Homo sapiens: one gene and its partners. The protein of the gene in region 1 purifies or fractionates together with the protein of each later gene. This does not show direct contact. Each region holds a gene or a part of one and is shown on either strand. Other genes may lie near its edges. The genes, in order: KCNS3, VANGL2, RHBDF2, PIGA, HCLS1, PDZD8 and FNTB.

The links.
Region 2: the proteins of KCNS3 (region 1) and VANGL2 purify together in Homo sapiens (affinity purification with mass spectrometry; 2 studies listed by BioGRID and IntAct, with this or other methods). This does not show direct contact.
Region 3: the proteins of KCNS3 (region 1) and RHBDF2 purify together in Homo sapiens (affinity purification with mass spectrometry; 2 studies listed by BioGRID and IntAct, with this or other methods). This does not show direct contact.
Region 4: the proteins of KCNS3 (region 1) and PIGA purify together in Homo sapiens (affinity purification with mass spectrometry; 2 studies listed by BioGRID and IntAct, with this or other methods). This does not show direct contact.
Region 5: the proteins of KCNS3 (region 1) and HCLS1 purify together in Homo sapiens (affinity purification with mass spectrometry; one large-scale study listed by BioGRID and IntAct). This does not show direct contact.
Region 6: the proteins of KCNS3 (region 1) and PDZD8 purify together in Homo sapiens (affinity purification with mass spectrometry; 2 studies listed by BioGRID and IntAct, with this or other methods). This does not show direct contact.
Region 7: the proteins of KCNS3 (region 1) and FNTB purify together in Homo sapiens (affinity purification with mass spectrometry, with the first as the bait; 2 studies listed by BioGRID). This does not show direct contact.

Annotation. Positions count from the first base shown.
Region 1 is NC_000002.12:17,881,667-17,885,166, reverse strand, and holds part of KCNS3 (delayed-rectifier potassium channel regulatory subunit KCNS3), read right to left. Parts: intron 1-3,500. UniProt on the Homo sapiens protein: Potassium channel regulatory subunit that modulates the delayed rectifier potassium channel activity of KCNB1 by namely slowing down the deactivation and inactivation time constants.
Region 2 is NC_000001.11:160,410,564-160,414,063, reverse strand, and holds part of VANGL2 (vang-like protein 2), read right to left. Parts: intron 1-3,500. UniProt on the Homo sapiens protein: Involved in the control of early morphogenesis and patterning of both axial midline structures and the development of neural plate. Plays a role in the regulation of planar cell polarity, particularly in the orientation of stereociliary bundles in the cochlea.
Region 3 is NC_000017.11:76,491,424-76,494,923, forward strand, and holds part of RHBDF2 (inactive rhomboid protein 2), read right to left. Parts: intron 1,732-3,500; exon of another isoform or gene 1,639-1,731; intron 1-1,638. UniProt on the Homo sapiens protein: Regulates ADAM17 protease, a sheddase of the epidermal growth factor (EGF) receptor ligands and TNF, thereby plays a role in sleep, cell survival, proliferation, migration and inflammation. Does not exhibit any protease activity on its own.
Region 4 is NC_000023.11:15,329,024-15,332,523, forward strand, and holds part of PIGA (phosphatidylinositol N-acetylglucosaminyltransferase subunit A), read right to left. Parts: intron 2,970-3,500; 5' UTR 2,908-2,969; coding exon 2,193-2,907; intron 1,625-2,192; exon of another isoform or gene 1-1,624. UniProt on the Homo sapiens protein: Catalytic subunit of the glycosylphosphatidylinositol-N-acetylglucosaminyltransferase (GPI-GnT) complex that catalyzes the transfer of N-acetylglucosamine from UDP-N-acetylglucosamine to phosphatidylinositol and participates in the first step of GPI biosynthesis.
Region 5 is NC_000003.12:121,643,904-121,647,403, forward strand, and holds part of HCLS1 (hematopoietic lineage cell-specific protein), read right to left. Parts: coding exon 3,416-3,500; intron 1,026-3,415; coding exon 915-1,025; intron 1-914. UniProt on the Homo sapiens protein: Substrate of the antigen receptor-coupled tyrosine kinase. Plays a role in antigen receptor signaling for both clonal expansion and deletion in lymphoid cells. May also be involved in the regulation of gene expression.
Region 6 is NC_000010.11:117,291,941-117,295,440, reverse strand, and holds part of PDZD8 (PDZ domain-containing protein 8), read left to right. Parts: exon of another isoform or gene 1-1,977; intron 1,978-3,500. UniProt on the Homo sapiens protein: Molecular tethering protein that connects endoplasmic reticulum and mitochondria membranes. PDZD8-dependent endoplasmic reticulum-mitochondria membrane tethering is essential for endoplasmic reticulum-mitochondria Ca(2+) transfer.
Region 7 is NC_000014.9:64,989,895-64,993,394, reverse strand, and holds part of FNTB (protein farnesyltransferase subunit beta), read right to left. Parts: intron 1-3,500. UniProt on the Homo sapiens protein: Essential subunit of the farnesyltransferase complex. Catalyzes the transfer of a farnesyl moiety from farnesyl diphosphate to a cysteine at the fourth position from the C-terminus of several proteins having the C-terminal sequence Cys-aliphatic-aliphatic-X.

The DNA of each region.
Region 1 (3,500 bases):
CTCTCTATTTAAGCTAATTTGAAAGCAGCTTATCCATGATCAACAATGAGCAAATGCTTAGAATCCTACCACAAATGTTCCTACATCCCCATTCATAGTTCTGCTAATTCAATTTATAAAAAATAACCCACATTAACACATATAAATAATGCTATTAAAGAACATTGCAGGAAGACTGCATTTTTAAAAAAATTATAAAATCACCAGGCAGTGAGGAAAAAAAAAAAAAAAAAACAACAGGGAAGGACAAGCAATATGCTCAGTTACCCAGATTTGGCGACAGAACCAAAGCTAGGATTCAAATGTCTAATCTTCTAGAAGTACTCAAAGTGATATGCTTAAAGTTACCTAGATTTTGAGATAAAGCCAGAGATAGGATTCAAATGTCTAATGTTCTAGAAGTGCTATAACTCTATACACAGAGGTATATATCTGTTAATTTACCAACGAGCTGGACTCACATCCCTAACCTCAGCCAAGGTTGCCTTCCACATAGACACAAACCTGCCCCTACACCCATCCTGTCTCTCTGCTCCCTTTCACAACCAAGCTTTATGTGTATGGTCTGCACTTCCTCACCTCCATTCATCTTTCAACCCAGGCCAATCTCACTTTAGGTTCCACTTCTGCAACACACAACACACCTCCAAACGAGGCTTCTGCTTCCCATGCTTGTACCTCTTCAGTCTATTCTTCTATCTGTTCTTCACAGCCTTCCCAGGCAATCTTGTATAAATTTAAATTGGCTTGTGACACTCACCTTCTGCAAATCCATTTTTCACAGCCCTCAGAATAAACCATAAGACCTTGAACTTGACCTAAAGGGCACAGCTTGATCTGACCCCAGCCCTCTTCTTTTTAAATATATATATATATATATATATATATATATATATATTTTTTTTTTTTTAATTATACTTTAAGTTCTAGGGTACATGTGCACAACGTGCAGGTTTGTTACATATGTATACATGTGCCATGTTGGTGTGCTGCACCCACTAACTCGTTATTTACATTAGGTATATCTCCTAATGCTATCCCTCCCCCCTCCCCCCACCCCACAACAGGCCCTGGTGTGTGATGTTCCCCTTCCTGTGTCCAAGTGTTCTCATTGTTCAATTCCCACCTATGAGTGAGAACATGCAGTGTTTGGTTTTTTGTCCTTGCGATAGTTTGCTGAGAATGATGGTTTCCAGCTTCATCTATGTCCCTACAAAGGACATAAACTCATCCTTTTTTATGGCTGCATAGTATTCCACGGTGTATACGTGCCACATTTTCTTAATCCAGTCTATCATTGTTGGACATTTGGGTTGTTTCCAAGTCTTTGCTATTGTGAATAGTGCCGCAATAAACATACGTGTGCAGGTGTCTTTATAGCAGCATGATTTATAATCCTTTGGGTATATACCCAGTAATGGGATGACCCCAGCCCTCTTCTACAACCTCCTCCCAGCTGTTCCCACCCTTGTTCTCTTGAAGTTCCTGCATAGAACAAAAAGAGGCTCAATGCTCATTCCTGCCTTAGAATCCTCAGCCTGGAATTATCTTTCTCCCACTCTTCACTTAATGGACTCCTTTTATCACTCAAAATGAAATGTCTCTTCCTCAGAAAGGTCTTCTCTGACCCTCTCATCTAAACTAGTGCCTCCCTACCCTTGTTACTCTCTCCCATGAAGTCCTTTAGAGAACTTACCACTACTTAAATTTTGCATTGGTTTGTTTAATGCCTGTCTCCCTCCCACTTCTCACCCCACCCCACCCCACCCCAACCCCCCACCGTTTCCTTTACCACAGTATACCCAGCACCTAGCATAGTACATAACATCATGTAAGTACTCAAATACTTGTTGAATGAATGTATGCACGGATTTGAATATATAATGAGAATACATATATGTGACTATATAAGTTAATCATTATGTCACCTTTGGTGAGCATCTGGTAAGTCCTCGGATGGCTGATTAGTAGAATACTCAGCAAGATACTTCATTCATTTGGCACTTCACCAAACTCACTGAGGCTGGCTGCTGCCAACATTAACTGCTTAACTGTAACATTATTGGCTAAAAGCAGATCTTATGCCTTTATCGTTCAATACTTGTGCAACTGAAGACAATATTTATACAGTATCTCCTCAAAGCAAATCGTAGTGCAAGGCTGTGCAGGATTCCAAAGAGAATGAGACCTCTTGCCCACAAGAAAAATACCACAACCTAGCCTAGTAACTATTTTAGCTTATTAAAGAGTTTACTTTTATAATGTGTAGATTTTGATCCTCTTAACAACTGTGAAAAAAAAGTATAATGTGCAGATATGCTAAAAAGTTTCAAAAGATGATCTAGAGAAATGATAAAGAAAAACAGGGATGAAAATTCTAAATCAGTTTCTACATTTTGTTGTACATTTTAAGCCTTGTTATTATGTTCATGATAATTGAGTATTCACTCCAGGCTTCACAAAACAGCAGGCCCCTGAAACAATAAAACAACAACACTCTTCTCCTCTTTCTCCTCCTCCCCAGCTTGTACTTACTCCCCATCCCCTGCCTCCAATAAGCACCCACAGTAGTCAAGACCAGCAAGCAAAGGCCAGGTCCAGGATGAAATTCAAACTCAGTTCCCCACTCCCCAAGGACTCTCGATAGCTCACTCCCTCCTGTTCTGCTCTCTAGCTCCAGAGAGAAGTGAGGCAGAAAGATGCTGGACTTAAAGTCAGAAGACCCCTGACTGTGTCCAAGTTCAAGGCTCAGTTTGCCTTAATTTCTTCATCAGCAATATGGGCTTCCTAACTTCTGTCCCACCTATAGCTTATAACTCTCAGTTGCTCTGAGGACTGGAATGAGATATCCCATGTGAAAGTTCCTACAAACCACAATAGGTTATACAAATGTGACCGAGTCATTGTGATTTTTATCAGGACTTAAACATTTAGCATCTTGTATTGTTCTATCTTGTCTCACTGATCTGGAGTCTCCAGATCCACTATAAGTTCAAGCTCAGAGACCATGTCATAGATTCTGCCTACCTTCATTGCCTGTAGTACTGGGCACTTAGCACCCATACAATAAGCACTTGTGAATTGGTCACTGGTTGATTTACTTGACAAATTTGCGTCGGAGTACAAAGTGTTCTGTGGTTTTTCTGAATTTCTTATATTGATAAACACATTTTCTGAAACTCACCATAATGTTTCCCTGGCCCATGATCTTTATGGTTTATCTTCCTTTTTTCCTAACCAGCTGGGCAGAATTTCACCGAAAAGCAGACCATTTTGTCAAAGGCAAAAATAATATTTTGCTAACGCAGTCTTTGAGATTCCTTTTAAGGCTGAGACATGGGACCCAAAAGTCACTTGGTAACTGTAAGCCCCCTCTGTCACTGTTCAACAAATGTAGTCCGAGATCCCACTAAGCACAGGGAACAGTGTTGGAACTGTAGGAATAAATGAGGAAAACTGAATCTCACAGTGGCTCTGCAGTCAGACTGCAAGGGATAGAA
Region 2 (3,500 bases), on another chromosome or scaffold:
AATGTTGGTGGTCAAATCAACAGGACCTAATGAGCGGGAAGGGAGAGTTAAGAATCCCCGGCCTGAGCAAGGGAGCAGATGGTAGCACCATCAGTAGGGTAGGGAAGACTGGGGAGGAAGCAGCCTTGTGAGGGAAGATAATTAGTTCAGCTTCTAGCCTGCTAAGTTAGTGGCCATGAGACAGTAGGCAGCCAGGTGTCAGACGAGCCAGACTTGGAGGACAGTCTGAGCTGGAGGTACTGAGTGTGTGAAAAGCTATGGGGATAGATAGAACTCAGATCCAGCTGAGTTCAAAACCTAACTCTTCCATGGACATAAAGGACCCCAATAGGTAGACATGTCCAGAGGAAAAGGAGCAGGCAAAGGGGATGAGAAGGCCAGAGGAGGAGGGGAGCCAGAAGAGTGGGGTCTCAAGGCAGCCAGAAATTTAACAGTGTTTTGAGGTGGGAATTAAGTCAACCAGGTCAAATGCTGCTGAGAGGCTGATTATGTTAAAAACTAAAATGGGGCCGGGTAATCCCAGCCTGTAATCCCAGCACTTTAGGAGGCCAAGGCGGGTGGATCACGAGGTCAGGAGTTCAAGACCAGCCTGGCCAAGATGATGAAACCCCGTCTCTACTAAAAAGCATGGTGGCAGGTGCCTGTAATCCCAGCTACTTAGGAGGCTGAGGCAGAGAACTGCTTGAACCTGGGAGGTGGAGGTTGCAGTGAGCCGAGATCATGCCACTACACTCCAGCCTGGGCGACAGAACGAGACTCCGTCTCAAAAAAAAAAAAAACCTAAAATGGATTTGCTTTGTATCATTACCTTTACTCCAACTACTCTAAACCATCAGTAATTTGAGAATAAGCAATATGATTGATACATATTTATATCCATCTCGCCTCCCATGGGCACAGAGCAAGGAACTGATACCAACCTAGTAAATGAACATAGTCATGCCTCGCTTAACCACAGGGATACTTTCTGAGAAATGTGTCATTAGGCAGCTGCATCCTGGGAACATCATAGAATGTACCTACACAAACCTTGACGGTATAGCCTACTACACACATAGGCCTTATGGTATAGCCTATTGCTCCCAGGCTACAAACCTGTACAGCATGTTACTGTACTGAACACTGTAGCCAACTGTAACACAATGGTAAGTACTTGTGTACCTAAACATAGAAAAAGTACAGTAAAAATACAATAGTATAATTTTATGGGACCACCATCATATATGTGGTCCATCGTTGACCAAAACATCCATGACTGTATGCCTCTCTGGCTCTCAGGGAAACTATAATGACTGTAGGGAGATGAAAGCATGTGAAATCTATTCATTCATCTTCTTAACAGAGTTCAATGGAGGCAATCCTCCATAGGATTAGTTATATTTGTCAGTATCCCCATGTCAAAGCACGTGCGTGATAAGGACACACTTAGAGGACAGGGACATAATACCTTAACCCAACCATAAGCCTTTCCAAAAAACTTTGCAGCAAAAATGACCCTTATTTATCCCCCTACCTGAAAAATATATGTTGGGCTCATCTACCCACTCTCCTGAGGACCCATTCTACTGGCCTACTCCTCCTTATAGTTTAGACATCTGACCTGCATTTCTCTTGTGGTTCCAGCCTATTCTTTCTAGTCTTCTTCATAAAAACTGAATTTTGCTAGGAGGCTCAAAGGCAACGAGTGGGTCACAGAGTGACATGGGGGTAGAGAAGGGGGTGGAGAAGTAAACAACTGCCACGGACTAGAGTCTAGACACACACACTAGATCCCAGGCTGTCCATCTCCTCATCCTCCTGTATACCCATCATCTGCCAAAGCCAACAGCCAGAAGAGCCAGAGATGTGCACTCAAAGATCTGAGTTCAAAACCTAACTCTTCCACTGACTAGCTGTGTGACTATGTGCAAGTTACTTAACACCTCTGTGCTTGTAGCCTGGTAAGCTCATTAGTAAAATAGTGAAGACAATGATGCCTTTTCATGGGGTAGCCGTAAGGATCACGAGGGTGAAAGAAGTGCTTTTATAAATGGTTCAGCTAGTAATTAGTTAAGCAATTAACAAGTTTTAGCTCCAGGATCACTCATACTCCAATCCTCAGACACTTCCTCTGAGACTAGGGAAAGAGGTGGTATAAATAAACCCTGCTGTTAGTACAACTAAATAAAGAAGTCTCACACATACACACACACACACACACCAACCAGAACCACCACTTCAAACACACCCAGAAGGTAAACTGATGCCATTTCATTTCCCCTACAGATAAATTTCAAACCAGACAAGGGTACCAGTCCCCTTTTGTTCTGAGCTGCCCAGCCTAGTGCCCCCTATCTTCCTCCCCTGCTACTTACTAAAGACTCAACATGAATCCTGCTCCCCTGGCCTGCCAACCCAAGTCAGAGTGCCCAAAAAGCACCAAAACACGCTTGTCTCCTCCCTACCAAACACAGGTGCCAAAAATGAACCCGACTTCTGAGACCCTTGCCTGCTGTGTCTTCAAGTACACCAGGGAACTAATCCAAGCACTGCTGCTGGGGGGCCTGGGAGGAGGGAGGAGAGGGGAGTAAAGAGAAGGGCAGAAGTTCCCCTTATTTAATCAGTCTCAGGGATCAGGGGTTTGGAGGGTCCCCTGGGTGGGCAGCGTTCCCAGGGAAGAGATGGGGGGAGGGGATGGCTGGATGAGATCAACAAGTGGAAACGTCAAGAGGGATGACGAGACAGGGAGGGAAGTCCGGACTTGGTGCAGGACAGGGAGCTGCCCTAGTCTGGGGAAGGGGGAGGCTATAGAAAAGGAATGTGCCCCACTGCCTTTCACCTTGCCCCCCACTTCCCAAGACACAAACACACACACTCAGTCCCCTGCTCAAACCAACCATGGATTATCTGGGGTTAAAATGAGGCCAGGGAGGAGAGAGGGAGAGAAGAGAGAGCCTGTTACAAAAAGGAGACCCTTCTCCCCTCCAAAGGCCTTTCAGAAATAAAATTAATGGAATGTGTCTCAGTATCATCCCAAGGGGATTGGGGGGGAGCTTGGCAGGGGGGAATGTGGGGGCTTTTGTCCCTGCTGCCCAGCTTCTCCCACATTGATCACCATGGCAACAAAAGCCCCCTGTTGCCTAGGTGATGGCAGCCGGGTCCTGGAACCCATACCCAGCATCCAAAGGGAGGGAGGTTATGGAGGTGGGGGCAATAGGGACAGAGGAGGAGAGAATGGGGTTTCTCCTCTGGCGGCCCCAGCTTTTGTCTGAGCTCTGGGATCAGGTTTCTTCAGGAAACAATTGGAGGCCTCTGGAAAAAATACACTCAGAACCTGGCAACAGGCAGAGGGAGCAGGGCCCTAGAGTAGTGCGTGCGTGCGTGCGTGTGTGTGTGTGTGTGTGTGTGTATAAGGGGGGTGGGTGTTGGCCAAAACACAGACCAGGGCGGACCAACCCTTTCCCATTTCCCACTCAAAGGAGGCGGCTCAAGTGGGCAAGGCGTTGAACACAAACGCCAGC
Region 3 (3,500 bases), on another chromosome or scaffold:
CAATCAGTTGGGGGGGGGTCCCGAAGAGAGGTGGCCTGACACCAGACAGCAGAGACAGGGCCAGGGCGGGTGGGCATGTCTTCCTGGGCAGGAGCCTGGCATCGGGAGTGCCATCTGAACCGCAGAGCACAAGAGGCCTGGGCAGCGGCCTGAGAGCAGCTCCACCCTCTGGCCTCAGTTCCCTTCTCTGAGGGAATGGGACAAGGTCACGGCCCAGCTTTGACACCCATGAAGCCTAAACATGGAGTATGGAAGCATGACTTTGCACCAGCCACTTTCCACCATTGAGATCAACTGCCTCCAACTCGTGCAGAAGTTGGGGTGGGGGTGCAAAGGCCCAGCCCCTTCCTTGGGGCTCAGCGGGGAAAGGAGTGGGGACTGTCAGACCCACTCTGGCCTTCCTCATGGCTCAAGTCCAGATGGCAGGAACCAGACAGAAAAAAGCGCTGGAGAGCTGGAGCTACCCCACCCAGCACTTATCTCCGAGCCCTAGAGATGCTTGCTCACTGCAGGGGAAATGGTGACATCCTGGGACCAGGCTTCCTCCTGGCCCGCAGTCACATCCGCCGCTCTCTCTCTAAGACCCCCAGGCCCGCCTCCGCACCCAGCCCACAGGCGGAACACTGCCACCTGCCCAGCCAGATCCTGGCCTCACTGTGGCCAACCCCAGAGAAGGGCCTTCAGCCCCAGCCCAGCTGGGAGATGCCAAAGAGACCTGGGGAGAGGGACTGGGGCTTAGGGTGGGACAGACTCTATTTCCTCCTCCTTTAGGGTGGGGCGGGGGAAATCCTGAAAAAAAGTGAAGTGCAGAGTTCAGATCACCCCCAGGTCCCATGGGTTGAGGCCTCTGTACCCTCCCCTGCCCAGGCTCAGGGCCTCCCCCACTGCAGATAGCTTTGGAGACAGCATAACCCAGCTGGCAGCAGCGGACCTCAGACACATCCAACGAAACACAGACTCAGACACCATTTACCACTGCTGCCCAGAGAATCTGGTTTCCCCACAAAGGGTGAGGCCAGGCACTCCCAACCAAGCCTGTTCCGCACAGCTGGGTAAGCAAGGCCACCCCCAGGGAGGTCCCCAACAGCTCTACCAGCCAGTCCAGGCAGGGTACAAGGGTCCCCCCGCCATGCGGACTGTACAAGCCACACTCCTCCACGCGGGCCCAGCCCACTGCCCCTCCCAACTCCCCCAGGTGCAGTTCCCTCTCTCCACCTGGTGCCACCAATCTCCCTGCACTCCCCACCCCCACACAAGTGGGTTTCTAGAAGCTCTGAGTCTTGCTAATGAAGGGTGCAGTCCCCACAAGCCCTGGGCTCTATGGGCTTTATGGGGCAGGGCAGGGAGAGCGTGACAGGTGCAGCCCAGAGGGAAACAGGCAGAGGCTTGATGCAAGGGCTGAGCCTGCGTGTGGCCAGAAATGGGGACACAGGGGTGGGACGGGACAGGCCCTTGGATAAGAAGTAAGCAGCCCCCTCCCCTCCAGACAGGAAAGAGGGAGACCATTATTATCCACTGGATATGACCAGGAAGTTTAGGGGGCTCAAGCCATCTGAAGACAGGATGTGGGGAAACCACCCCCTGGGCGGGAAGCTGCTTCCAGCCTGGCTCCGGAGCCGCGGGTGGGCGAGGCGTCACCTGGTGTCCCTGGGAGTGGGCAGTCAGGACAGAAGGAGGGCGGTGGGAGGCTTGGGGCCACGTCTTCGCGGCTGAATCACAGGATGCTAGGGTGAGGGCTGGGGACAAGGAAACTGCTTCTCTCCCCAGCTCCCTTGCCACAGAAACTGAAACTCATTTTCCCTGCCTGTGGCCCTGCTGGGAACCAGGGCATTTTTAGAAAGCTGCAAAGAGGAAGCTGAGCCTCACCCACTGTGCAATCCCCAGCAAAACCCGTGGTACTGCTGACCCCGGGGTTTCTCCAGCCCCAGAGGCCCGGAAGGACAGCTCATGGCACAGCTGTTCTTACACCTCCCCATGCATCCCCAAGCTGGGCCTCACGTAGCCAGTGACGCTGCCCTGGCAAGAGGTAGAAGGGGCAAGAGTAAAGGGCAGGAAAGTGGCAAGAAGGCTGGCTGGGGGCCTGGGGGCAGAATTTGGGGAGAGTCATGAGAGGCAAAACAGAAGGGCAGGGTTGGCATGAGCTGCGGCGTGAGCTCCACCGGCAGAGTTAGCAGAGGGGAGAGGGGGCTGGGGACTCTGAGGGTGGGACACCCAGCTGTCTGTCTCCAGGAGCCAAACAGGAGCCACTCTCCCTCCCTCTCAGCACCACCTCCCCAGAGGCCGGAGCTGGTGGCAAGTGGGCGCAGACACGATCTCAACCCACTCCGCCGGTACACGCTTCAGCCCACAGCTGCTGATGGAGAGAAACAAAACGGCCTGTGGGTTCACACAGCTCCCCAGACATCCCACGAACAGCGGGTCCTGGCCCAGAGAGCTGTTTCTTTCTCCTCCTCGCCCCTCCAGGGCTTGCCTCGAACTCAGTTCAGAAGATCAAGAACCCCCAGGGGCAGCTTCAGGGGACTGACCATCCCCTGACTTCTCTGGGCTTTTTCCTATCCGGCCCCAGGCTCTGGGCTCCCCTTAACCCGGTTAGAGTGGCTGGGGCGTCATAAGCCAACCACAGACACGGGAAGCGGGTGCTGTGCTCCAGGGAGCCGCCAAGATCAGGGGTGTGAGGTGTGAACCTGTGTGTGTGTGTTGCGGGGGGCTGGGGGGTGACATGTCATGTTCTTAGGGTGGTGCAGCCCCTGACGCCCCCTCTGCACCAACCATCTGGGCTTTCTCAGGACCAGTTGCCAGCAGGGATGGCAGAGATACAAATGCCCCCTCCTCGGCTGGGGTTCCTGGTCCAGGAAGCAGGCTGAGCTGGGGGTGCTGGAGTCCTGCATCCCCGAAGCCCAATGTGCAGCAGCTGCTGGCAAGACACAGGGGTGGGCACCAAAGGAGGTGGCAGTGCAGCCAGGCCTCGAGCTGGACACAGCGCTGGGCCCCACCCACCACAGTGCCCTCCCCTGGAAATTTCTGGATTTCAAAAGCTGCTGGTGGAGGCTGGGCACAGTGGCTCACACCTGTAATCCCAGCACTTTGGGAGGCTGAGGTGGGCAGATCACCTGAGGTCAGGAGTTCTAGACTAGCCTGGCCAACATGGTGAAACCCCATCTCTACTAAAAATACAAAAATTAGCCAGGCATGGTGGCGGGTGCCTGTAATCCCAGCTACTGAGGAGGCTGAGGCAGAAGAATCGCTTGAACCTGGGAGGCGGAGGTTGAAGTGAGCCGAGATCACGCCACTGCACTCCAGCCTGGGCGACAGAGCAAGACTCCATCTCAAAAAACACACAGACAAAATAAAACAAAGCTGCTGATGGAGGCAGGCAAGTGGCAGCAGCTGGGCGGGGATGCAGGTGCCTTCCACATCCCAGGGAAGAGGCAGCAGCTCCCGAGCCTGGGGCTGGACTGCAGGCTTTGGGGCAATGAAGGGAAGGGGGCACGCACAGCAGC
Region 4 (3,500 bases), on another chromosome or scaffold:
TTCAGGCCAAGTTTCCTTGCCAACCTCCACTTAAATGGACTGCTGGGTCAATCAAGATTCTCCATTCCAAACGTAAACTGACCAAGGCCCACATCTAGATTTTAGGCCACTCCCTAGCACACTGGCACACCACTGAATTCAGTGCTTGTCAAGAATCAATTGTTTGTTCACACATCTGTTTGATGTCAGTTGTACTTGTTATCGTCGTGTTGAGTAATTTAATTATCATATAAACTGACAAAAAGAGTATCCACAAAAACTAAGCTGAACAGTTTGAAAAATCCAATAAAGGAATGTCACAGAAAAAAGTTCTTGGCAGATGAGGGGTGTCCTAAACTACTGTATAAAATTGAAAACAAATTAAAACTCCTGAAGCATATCAGTTCATACGCCTTTAAGTTCTGACCCCACCCAAAAGAAACTCAAAGTAGCAATGGTAGATTATGTTTTATGAAGGAGGGTGTGCAAGATGCAGCTGAAACCAGTGGCCCAGCACTCAAAGCCTGCAATCCTACATCAAACTACGGGCAACTCAGTGTGTATTAATATTTTGAGTTTAATTCAAATATTAACTATTTAAGGGGGTATGTATTTATGTATTTTTTTTAATGATTCCCTACTATAAATGACACTTTTGATTAGTGGACAGGTTTTCAAATAGCACTCAGAAGACACTGTTTTTTATAACCAGACTGTGTCAGACTTTTAGTAAACAAGCCTCCACACATTCAACTGCAGTGTCCATTAAGTGCTGTAGAGGTACAAAAAACAGCCTCCTTGGCCAGGTGCAGTGGCTCACGCCTGTTAATCCCAGCATTTTGGGAGGCCGGGGCAGGTGGATCACGAGGTCAGGAGTTTGAGACCAGCCTGGCCAACATAGTGAAACCTTGTCTCTACTAAAAATACAAAAAATTAGCTGGGCTTGGTGGTGGGCGCCTGTAATCCCAGCTACTTGGGAGGCTGAGGCAGGAGAATCGCTTGAACCTGGGAGGCAGAGGTTGCAGTGAGCTGAGATCACGTCACTGCACTCCAGCCCGGGGGGTGACAGTGCGAGACTCCGTCTCAAAAAAAAAAAACCCAAAAACCTCCTTGATAATAGTGGACAGTTACAAACTAGGCTAATAGTTTATAGGAACTATCACTGAACCCTTGCGAGGTTCCCAATGTTGCTTACATTACACAAATGAAAAAACTGAGACTTAGAGATGTTAAGCTACTTGTCCTCGATCACACAGCAGGACAGACCCATCATCTGATCCCAGGACATCTAATCCCCTTTTCTTCATCACTTACCTGCCAATATGTTACTAATGTCTTATACATGATGAAATGAAACAAGCAAGCTACAATACAGTAACGTGCAGAGCAAGCCCACTGATTTTCAGTATATGTACGTACACATAAAAAAGACAGGAAAGCTATAAATCAAAATACTCATTAGGGTATCTCTGAATAATACAGTTACAGCTGATTTTAGTTTTCATCTTTGTGCTTTTCTTAGTTTCCAAAATATCTGCAATGAAAAGACATTACTTTGGCAATCAGAAGAAAAAAGCCATCTGTGAGCTCTGCCCTTTACTTCTTTTTTTTTTCTTTAGAGACGGAGTCTCGTTATGTCGCCCAGGCTGGAGTGCAGTGGCACGATCTCTGCTCACTGCAAGCTCCGCCTCCCAGGTTCATGCCATTCTCCTGCCTCAGCCTCCGGAGTAGCTGGGACTACAGGAGCCTGCCACCATGCCCAGCTAATTTTTTGTATTTTTAGTTGAGACAGGGTTTCACCATGTTAGCCAGGATGGTCTCAACCTCCTGACCCCGTGATCTGCCTGCCTCAGCCTCCCAAAGTGCTGAGATTACAGGTGTGAGCCACCGTACACGGCCTGCCCTCTACTTCTTTACCACATGTGCAGGGCTGTTTTAATTTTTAAAAAGATCTGAAATTTAACAGCATCAGGTTATTCTTATTTTTAGTAACCATTAAAACATCAAAGGTTGGGGGACAGCATTCACCACCATCCTGAAAAATCGCTCTTCTTGGATATATAAACCAATATTAGAACTTTCTTTGCTATAATTTATAGCATTATAAAACCATAAAACAAAATGAAAAGCCAAACAATCATTATATACAAGTATTCAACAGCTTTCTATAGGGAAAAAAGTCTACAATGCAATTATAGCTATCATTTCATTACCTTTTCTGTAAACAAGTCTGCTGACAACAACAATAGTTATACTATCATGCCTTCTAAATGGGTCTGGAGTGAAGTCAGTAGGATCTACAGCATTAGGAATGACGGACACTATTTCAGGATTCAGTGCTGCTCTTAGTACAGTATTTTCCTTACTAGTATAAGACACACAAATGATGTGGTTTGTATCACAAAGAGACACGGTTAGAAGCTTGTTTGTAAGCACCGAGCTGACATCAGCAAATCCAAAAAGGGAATGGTCCGTGAAGACTGTCTGAAGCCCCATTGTCTTGGCGTGGAAGAGAGCATCATGGGCCATAGCAGAAAAAGAACTATGTGAATGGATTATCGTGACTCTCTCCCGAACAAATATGTACCTGAGCAATGGCAGACTGTGAAAGAGGGTCGTGGCTGTAGACTGGTTGTACATGACTTTCAGAGGCAAGTAATAGACTTTGAGGCCACTGGTGAGGTAACGGATGCCTTTTCGATTTCCATAAGCATGGGTGACAATTATAACCTTATGCCCTCTTTCAATCAGGCACTGAGAGAGCTGGTAAATGTGGCTTTCCACGCCTCCCATATTTGGGTAGAAAAAGTCAGATACCATGCATATATTATGGGTACGGGTTCTACATGTGTAAAGACTTCCAGGGCTAACCCGAGAGAGTGTAGCTGAGGCACGGTGGCCATTCCCAGCTCCTCCTCTACAGGCCATGCTGAGACGGTTTAGACATCAGTTCTTAGAGCAACCCAGTTAAGAGATGTGTCCTCTATTACCTGAAAAAGAGTAAAACAGGATCTCAGCTCAGAAACAAAACACATTCCATATTACAAATCCAGATATAGATATTGTTTTAATGTTAATGTAAATTTGTTAGCTTTCCCCAGAATTAAAAATAAAGCAAATCATCAATTTACTCATTTGACATTTACTTGCTTGGCATTTACATACAACAAAACTAGGTTCTACCATGTCTTAATTTTGCCCTAAAAATACTGCTACATGTAACTTTAAATAGTAAGTTTGTTACACCACAGCATATCATGGTTTACCACGTTAACAAACCAGTCTCTTCCAATAATTAAGTATATATACACACATACATACACACATTTATATATTTCCCCTTTACTCTTATACTTTACCAGCTTCTATTAATACTTATTAAATGGCCACTATACATCAGCTACTACATGCTAAGACTCTTCTATATCTTATTGCAGCCTCACCAAAACTCCATGAGTTATCAACTCCATCTTATAAATGGAAAGTCTAAAGCTTAAAGGGGTTAAGAAATTTGTTCAGTT
Region 5 (3,500 bases), on another chromosome or scaffold:
ATATTTCACTATTGCCTTCTACATCTTCCCTTAGCTTTGCAGTATGTTTTAAACTTTCCTGATTTTGTTTTTCATGGTTTTACCCCCCATGATGCAAACAATTAATTTTCTAGAACTTAGCTGCCTTAGCTTCCAATCCTTAGCTTTAAGGATGCATGTCCACCTAATTAACAACTGTTGGTAAAAACAAAGAAAAAATCTCAGCTAACTGTGAAGGAGCTGTCCTCTCTCTGTGTGCAGCTGCAGGGCAGGAGACACCATTCTGCACCATAAAAAATGAGTTCAAAGAATCCGACCTAATAAGGCGTGGAACTAAAAACATCGATGAGTTATCAATCTTACTCTCCTGTCAACGATATGATGCTGTAATCATACGGTACTTTTTTTTCTCTTTAAAACAACATTTTGTTTTGTTTTGTACAAAGGAGTCTTTAAAGATATCTGGACTTCATAGATTGATGCTAAATTCTGTAAATAGTAACCCTAATTAGTTGTTTAACTTGATTATCTGCTGCTATGGCAATAATATTTAAACTGATGAATCTGTTTTCCTAAACGGCATGAGTATTTATAAGGTTTTGATGTTAAGCCAAAAGAAGAGCTTAGATGATTCTCTGTTCTATCTTCATGCATATGAGTATAATAAAAACCAGTGGCTTGAGGAATTATTCATTCAAACACACAGTTTGAGAGTCTTCTCCTATTTGAATCACTGTCTTTCAGCTCAGCATGTGGCTTCCAACATTGGCACCAAGGAACTTGCTGAGGGAGGTATCCCTGTGACGGTGTCAGGTCCTCACAGCATCCACTGTCCTGTCTTTCAACAAAGAAGCATGTGCCTCCATCCAGGGGTGATCGTGGGCAATTTTCACAGGACTGGAGGTGGGTGGTTGGGAGAGAGAGTGGTCACTTACCTTGTCTGCCCTGTCCCTCTCAACTCCGTACTTGCCCCCAAAGCCTTTGGCAGCATCCGTCTGAGAAGAGTGCTTCTCCACCTCGGCAACATACTCATGGCCCACTGCACTCTGAGAAAAATCAAGGATGGAGTGAGTGAAAAGATAAAAATGACCTTAAAAAAATAAATACAGATATGGAGTGGGATGTAGGCATGTAAGAAATTCCATTCTGGGTCAGATCTATAGCCTCTGACAGTGGTGCCAAGGAATACGCGATGGGAGAGCAAGATGACTTTTTCTGGAGACCTGCTCATCCCTGTTCTTCTCTAATACCATTAGGAATCCTTCATTCTGAACACTCCCATAGGATGGGCTGGGAACCAGGGGATAGAGACAAGGTAGACAGAGCAGTGTTTAAACCAGAAACAAAAAGAGCTGAAACAAGAGCATTGTGCAGCAGAACAGAGTGTAGTGTGGGGTAGTGTGGAGGAGAGACCAAGGGGACTGACCGGACGCCATAGCCGGGATGGAATATTTCACTAGGAGAGCCAATGATTTTGTTCTAGATCTTTGCTCCTGTATGGCCATCAAAGTTCAGAAGTGAACTCTGAGCTTTATACACCATGTAATGTAGGACATGTATACAAAAAAAATCACTAAATACACAGTAAATAAAATAATAAAGAGAAGTTGCAACATAGACATAATACATAAACATTTAAATGCAGCAAATAATTTTAAAACATATTTTTTCCTTCTCCACTTGTGCTCCCTGTCTTCTTGGTCTAGGAGTTACAATGTGGTTGGGGCTACAACAGGCCAGCAGTTCTAATATCTTGGTTCTTATTTTCTGCCATGTATATCTTATGTGTTGAGATCAGAAAAATTTGATACAAATAATATGTGGACATTATATTTTAGACCAAATGACTACTGTACTTTTGAATGAGTTTTAACTCATGAACCAATGAATGAGTCAAAAAATATATATTTTGATCTAGAACAAAAGTATCTGGGTGTTTTAGCAAAATTTTTAAATATACTTAAATATTATATACTATATATTTATGAATAAACTATATATTTATAATATAAATATGTTATATCATATAATTATAATATATTAAAATATACATAATATAAATTTATATATTTACATTTACTTATAATTATGTAACATATATTAATAATATATATTTATAAATATATTTATAAATAATTATATAAGTATATAATATATAATGTATTAATATATAATATATTAATTATATACTTGTATTAATATATAATATATTAATTATATACTTATATATAATATATACTTATATATAACAGATACTATATATAAGTATATATATAATATATCTTATAATTAATATATAATAATATAATATTAAATATATTATTTATATTTTTATATATTTTATATATTTATATATATTTTATATATATTTATAAATAAAAATATATAATATATATTATATTTTATGTATTATATTTTATATACTTATATAATATAATATATATTATATATTAATTATAGTATATAATATATTACATTATATTACATATTATTACTATGTAATATATTACTATGTAATATATTACATAGTAATAATATGTAATATAATGTATTAATAATGTAGATTATATATTATATATGATATATAATATATAATATAGATATATTATATATTATATATACTTATATATAGTATCTGTTATATATAAGTATATAAGTATATATTATATATATTAATATATATTTATTACATATATTAATATATATAATATATATTAATATATATACTTATTATATATTATATATTATAAGTATATATTATATTATATATACTTATAATATATATACACTTATATATAATATATAAAATATAATATACATTATATTATATTTATAACATATATAAAATATATAAGTATATATAATAAATATATACTTATATAATTATATACTTACATATAATTGGCTCTTATAGAGCCAATTATTTTATAGCCAATTATTATAGAGCCAATTATTTATTATAGAGTCAATTATATATACTTATATATAGTTGGCTCTTATTATAGAGGTATATAATTATATATAAGTATATAATTATACATATTTACAAAATATATAAGTATATATATCAATTTTTTAATGTATTATTTATTTATTTTATTTATTTTTTTTTTTTTTGAGACAGAGTCTCGCTCTGTCTCCCAGGCTGGAGTGCAGTGGCATGATCTCGGCTCACTGCAAGCTCTGCCTCCCAGGTTCACGCCATTCTCCTGCCTCAGCCTCCTGAGTAGCTGGGACTACAGGCACCCACCACGACGCACGGCTAATTTTTTGTATTTTTAGTAGAGATGGGGTTTCACCGTGTTAGCCAGGATGGTCTCGATCTCCTAACCTCATGATCCACCCACCTTGGCCTTCCAAAGTGCTGGGATTACAGGCGTGAGCCACCGCACCCGGCTTGTATTTTTTTAAAGCAAATCTTTCCCTTTCAACTTACCTTGTCCATTCGGTCTCTTTCTACTCCAAACCGACCTCCATAGCCATGGGATGCTTTGGGCCCTGACTCCATCTCTTTCTTCCTG
Region 6 (3,500 bases), on another chromosome or scaffold:
TTAAAAGAATGTATTTTGCCATTGTTGAGTATAATGTTCTATAAGTGTCAGTTAAATCAAGGTTGATGATGTTGAGGTTGCCTGTGCCTCCACTTCTTTTTTCTAGTTATATTGGTTGCTGAGAGGATGAAGAAACCAAGTTTTACCTCTAACAGCAGCTTTAGTAAAGTTACATTGCAAAGAGACATGCTTATAAGAATAGGAGGAATTTGTTACCATGTTTTATGGTCTACCACTGAGTTCATTTTCAGTCTTTTTTGGGTTTTGTTGGTGGTGGTGGGTTTTTTTTGTTTTTGAGGCAGGGTCTAGCTCTGTTGCCCAGGCTGGACTGTAGTGGTGCAGTCATGGCTCAATGCAACCTCCACCTTCCCAGCTCAAGTGATCAAATCAGGATAACTAGCATAGCCATCACCGCAAACATTTCTTTGTGGTGAAAATATTAAAAATAATCTCTTCCAGCTATTTTGGAATATACAATACATTATTAACTATAGTTACCCTATTGTGCAATAGAACATCAGAACTTATACCTCCTAACTGTAACTTTTTATAGCCACTTCTGATCTCCCCACTCCCCCTATTCTCCCCAGCCTCTGGTAACCACTCTTCTACGTCTATTTCTATGAGATCAAGTTTTTTAGATTCCACATATGAGTGAGATCATACAGTATTTGTCCTTCTCTGCCTGGCTTATTTCACTTAACATAATGTCCTCTGGGTTCATCCATGTTGTCATAAATGACTTTTCTCTGGGGTTTTGTTTTTTGTGGCTGAATAGTATTCCACTGTGTTTGTATACCGCACATTTTTTATCCATTTATCCATTGATGGACTCTTAGGTTGATTCCATAGCTTGGCTCTTGTGAATAGTACTGCAGTAATCAAGGAAGTGCAAGTATATCTTCATCATACCAATTTCATTTTCTTTGACTATATACCCAATAGTGGGATTATTGGATCATTGCTAGTTCTATTTTTAAATTTTTGAGGAACCACTGTACTGTTTTTCATAATAGCTGTAACTAATCTACTTTCCCACTAACAGTGTATAGGAGTTCCTCTTCTTCCACATCCTTGTCAATATTTGTTTTTTTGTTTTTTTTTTTTTTTTTTGTCTTTTTGGTAATAGCCATTTATTTGGTAATATGTGTCTTCTCTCTTGTTTCTTGATCAGTTTAGCCTATAGGCTTACCAGTTTTATTGGTCATTTTATTGAGTCAGCTTTTATTGATTTCTCTATTATTTAAGTATCTGTTCCATTGGTTTCTGTTCTTTATTATTTCTTTGCTTCTACTTTGGGGTTTAATTTCTTAAAATGGGGACTTAGGTCACTAATTTTAGATTTTCCCCCCTATATAAGCATTTAAAACTATAAATTTCCTCTAAAACACTACTTTAGTTGCATCCCACAAATTCTGATTGGTTGCATTTTCATCATTTCATTTGAAATATTTTTGGATTTCTCTTGTGATTTTTCTTTAACTCATGAATTATTTAGAAGTGTGTTGTTTTGCTCTCCAGATATTTGGGGTTTTCCTAGTTACTAATTTGTAATTTAATTCCACTATGGTCAGAAAACATGCTTTGTAAGAGTTCTGTCTTTTTAAAATTACTGATATTTGTTTCATGACCTTCTACATCCTGGTGAACTTACCATGTACACTTGAAAAGAATGTATTTTGCCATTGTTGAGTATAATGTTCTATAAGTGTCAGTTAAATCAAGGTTGATGATGTTGAGGTTGCCTGTGCCTCCACTTATTTTTTTCTAGTTATATTGGTTGCTGAGAGAGGGATGAAGAAACCAAGTTATACCTCTAGCAGCAGCTTTAGTAAAGTTACATTGCAAAGAGATATGCTTATAAGGATAGGAGGAATTTGTTACCATGTTTTATGGTCTACCACTGAGTTGATTTTACTGTTCTCTGTACTTTTGTATATATTGGAAATTTTCTGTAATAAAATCTTAAAAGCCAAACCCTCTCAGGTGATATTATATTCCAGGGAATGCATGTTGAAGCCACAGCATGCTTCACCATGTACAGGAAAAATATTTAGGGTTTCTATTTATGTTTGTTTTTTACATTGTCATTTTAAAAGTTCTATTTTGGCATATGTTTTATAGTGCCAGGCATATCCAATAGTCATAAATAATTTTAAGATATAGATGCATACATATGGGAGAGAATTATATATTATATATCATTGTACTATTCTGGTTTTAAAATAGTAGTTTTACCCTAGTGGAAAATCAGTTTTGTTCCAAAAGTTGTGTATCATTGCATGGTCTTGAACCTTATCTTAAATTTTATATTAAAATAACAATGTTTTTGTGAAATACTCATTTTAAAATGCTTTGTTTCACCAGGCTTTTAATTAAGAGGTGTTTTTATATTCTGAAACTTCTGAATCATGTCAGAACTTAATTAAGGTGATGATTTTCATTTCAGGGAATGCTGAAATTAAAATCTAAAATTAGGTCAGTGGGGTGCAGGCTTAAAAGGAAACAAAAACCAGCTTGTAAAAGAAACAGTGTCTTATGTTCTGTTCCCTGTACATACTTGAAATTAAGAGTATTTACTAATAATCAGTAAAAATTGGGGAGAAAGTGAGGTAATGTAATATTGGCCCTAATTATTGCTACTGAAAACCTTATCTTTTTTTTTTTTTGCATCTGGAATGTTTACTTCAGGTATCATTTGAATTAAGAAAAGCAAAGGGAAAGATATGATTTATAGATAGAAAATAAATTAAGAAACTAAATTACACTAACACCTTACACTAGCCTCTATTCACTTCCTAATCCTACCCCCTGAATCTCCATTCTACTTTTAAAAGCAGAGTAAATAACAAAAAAAAAAAACACATTCCAAATGCAGGTGTTAATTTTTAAACTTTACAGTACTCAGACTTACACTGTTTAGGTTTTCTACCCATTTGCTATCATTAGCTTCCTGCAATTAGAAAAACTTACATTCTAAATTTCAGCTTTGGCAATCTGTATATTAAGAATATATTTATGTTCCTGGATTTGAGAGAATATGTTGTTAAGGGTTTTGTTAAAAGCCTTAATTGTGTACAGCACTTTACATTGTAAGGTGATTAATTGCTGTGTCATAAGGCAGGGATTGGACAAATGTCTTAGGAGATTTAAACACAAATTACGTGTTTTGGCGGGGCTTTGTGTTTTGTAAACCTTTAGGTAATTCAGAATTTGACCACATATCCCATTTCTTGAGCACAGTATGATTAAGATTTTCCTTAAAATAACTTTACAAAATTTGTTAACACCCAAATTAAAGAGCAACTTCCAGTGAGGGTTCTTTTACCAGCGAATATCATTAGGTAGGAAAATTGAATTTCTGTCCAAGTGGGATTTATATATTAAAGCAGTGCAGCCAGTGATATATTTGGATATTAGGGTATTTGGCAAAGTCCCTCATGAGATATCCTTGAAGAATAGGACTTAAGAAATGTGGACTGGAGAATAATACAATTAGA
Region 7 (3,500 bases), on another chromosome or scaffold:
TAATCAGTGAAACAAGATAAATTAAACACAAATTTAGTAATTATCCCTGGAGATATAAACTCACACTTCCATGTGTAAACTGCCATTGTAAGGCCAGCTTTTTATTTTGTTTATTCATTTTTTACTTTTTTTAGAGATGGAGTCTCACCCTGTTGCCCAGGCTGTCTCGAATTTGTGGGCTCAAGCTATCCACCCACTTGGCCTTCCAAAGTGCCAGGATTACAGGCATCAGTCACCATGCCTGGCCAGTAGACCAACGTTTTAAAGATCATTTTAGCTGGGCGCGGTGGCTCATGCCTGTACTTTGGGAGTCCAAGGTGGGCGGATAGCTCGAGTTCGGGACCAGCCTGGGCAACACAGGGAAACCCTGTCTCTACAAAAAAATATAAAAAGTAGCCGAACATGGTAGCGCACGCCAGTAGTTCCAGCTAGTCAAGAGGCTGAGGTGGAAGGATCACTTGAGCCTGGAAAGTTGCTACAGTGAGCCATGATCATGCCACTGCACTCCAGCCTGGGAAACAGAGTGAGACCCTGTCTTTAAAAAAAAATAGAAATCATTTGAAAAAGTAATAAAGTGGTTAAGTTGCAGTGACCACAAATATATACCAACTGGAAACACTGCAAAAAAAAAATTCTAGGCTCACGTCTGTAATCCCAACACTTTGGTAGGCCAAGGCAGGCCTGTGAGGTCAAGGCTACAGTGAGTGGTGATTGCATCACCGCACTCCAGCCTGGGCGACAAAGTGAGACCCTTTCTTAAAAAAAAAGTCTAATGTTATGCAAGTGGATACTTGTAACTTGGAATAAACTGTTCAGTGGTAACACCTTATTCATATTCAAAAACGATGTATCTCAAGAACTGAACATGTGGTCCGGAAATCCACATTGGCTGACTCAAAAAGTGGCTCCAGTGATGATAAAAATAGTGAAGTCAAAGATGCATGTGAAGAGTCTGAAAAGAAACATTTTATAAATAAGAAGAGGAGGAAAACCAGCATTTCTAAATTAGTGTTACTTTATAAAGTAGGTGATTTTAAGTAGGTATATGGACCCAAATTTAAATGTAAATTTTGTAAGCAGGTATTTTTCACTTATATACCTAAAAGTACATGTATTTTCAACTTGACCAAAAACAACCTTTTGGACTTTTTAATGGGGAAATTTTGATATGCAGGATTACTTTACACTTGGGCAATATGGTATATGCTGAATTTCAATAAAATAAAATGGATTCAGAAAGCTAGCCTACTGACCACCTAACCAAGCAGAGCTCCAGTCCCTTCTATCAGAGGCATAAAAAGTTGGGAAGTTTTATCATATTTAGTGATTTGTTCCACCTCCATTTACTAATATTTTGGATCCTATAAGCTGAAATAAGTCAACAGCAGGTCAGGATTCTGTTCCGCTGGTCCCTCCTTAGGATATGTGGTGGCCCACTGCCCGAACCTGAAGCCAGCACATCACCTGCCTCTTAATACCCTGATAGGGGCCCACCCGCCCAGCTCACCTCATTTCCTACCACATCCAACCTGCACCCTCCGTTCCTGGTAAGCCATCTTAACGCCCCCAGTCAAGCCTGAGTCTTCCCTCAAAACAGCTCTCCCTCCTTGAATGGCTGCCCCAAACTCTATTTTTTACAGCCCACCCAGTTCCACGTTCTCCATGAAGTCATCCTGACCACCTCAGCCCACACAGATGGCTTTTCAACTCCCCAAAATCCTCGTGCAAAGCAGTTATAATTTAGCACTCTGTGACTGCCTATAGCATATTCTTCTTATTTTTTTCTTTTTTGAGATGGAGTCTTGCTCTGTCACCCAGGCTTGAGTGCAATGGTGCAATCTCGGCTCACTGCAACCTCCGCCTCCCAGGTTAAAGAGATTCACCTGCCTCAGTGTCCTGAGTAGCTGGTATTACAGGTGCACACCACCACGCCTAGCTAATTTTTGTATTTTTTTAGTAGAGATGAGGTTTCACCATGTTGGCTAGGCTGGTCTCAAACTCCTGACCTCCAGTGATCCGCCAGCCTCAGCCTCCCAAAGTGCTGGGATTACAGGAGTGAGCCACCGCACTCGGCCTTACAGCATATTCTTTTTTATCTCTCTAAGATAAAAGAATTTTGAGGGCAGGGATCAAGACTAATAATTCTCTTATATTCCCCTCAGAGTTCAAGTCACTTCATTGACAATGAACCATGCCAATGGTTCAATGACACCATGCCATTTAAAGTGGAGGACGCGTTTGCCTCTGTTCAAAGACAAACTCAAAGAAAAACAGTAGTATCTTTTGTAAACACCTGTTTTTGGCAAGGCTGCTACCTCTGAGACTATCAGTATTAACCTACTGGCCTGAATCAGAGTGTCTGCAATGGGATGATTCCAGATGGCACAATAAGGAAGGCAGGCACTAACAATACAACCATGTCTTGTTCTCTAGTGTCATGAAAGGCCCTCCCTGCATCTGCATTAACAAAACAGCTTAGCAAGGTAGAGACCTTCATAAAAATATCCAGAGCTGACCATTTCTCATTACCTCCACTACCGTCACTGTGAGCTAAGCCACCGTCACCTCTCTCCCAGGATACTGCAATAGCCTCCTAACTGGTTTCCCTGTATCCACCCTCACTCCCCACCATCTACTCTTGACAGTAACCTAAATGAGCCTGTTAAAATGCTAGTCAGACTGTGTCACTCCCCTGCTCAAAACTCTCTGATCATGGATCAGTCTAAGTCCTGGCAGGAAACAGATGGCACAAAGTGGGTGATTTGAGGAGAGTTTATAAAGGAACTATTTACAAAGATGTGGGCAGGTGTAGGGAAACCACAAGAGAAAATGCAGTATCTGGAGCTGGTAAATCAGGGGTACCTGAACTCCTCATAGACCTGAAGGTGTGAAGGATGGAGAGGGAGGGAGACAAAGAGCTCCGCAGAGAAGGCACATGACAGGAAATGTGACCTTAAGTCTAAGGAAACCCCACCCCACACAAGCCTGCAGGAGGGAAGAAATACAGTGGTCTCATTCTTCTCCTTCTCGGTCACCCCCAGCAATACTTCCCATGGCCCGCAGCCATAAAGCAAGGCAACCTGTCAGTGCAGGGCCCCCTCCTGGGGCACATCTACAGAGCAGGCTAGAAAAGGGCCAAGTGAATCTGGGGCAGTAAATGGCAGGTATACAGCCAAGTGGCTCTCCATCTCAGTCAGGGTATTTTAAAGTACTTCCAAAGGCCAATGAGACCCTACATGATCCGACCCATCTCCTACTCTCTGGTTTGCTAAGCCCCCTGCTCACCTGGCATTCTGCTGCCTTGGTCCTTTGTGCTTGCTGCTTTCTCTGCCCAGAATACTCTTGCACCAGATCCATGATGGCTTCCTCCCTCATCTGAGACTTCAGGTCTCAGATCACATGTGTTGTCACCAGAGGGTTCCCCTTAACACCTTATATGAAGACCTCCCCTGCTCCCACCCCACCCATTCCTGACACACCCTATCCCCTCTATCCCAAGG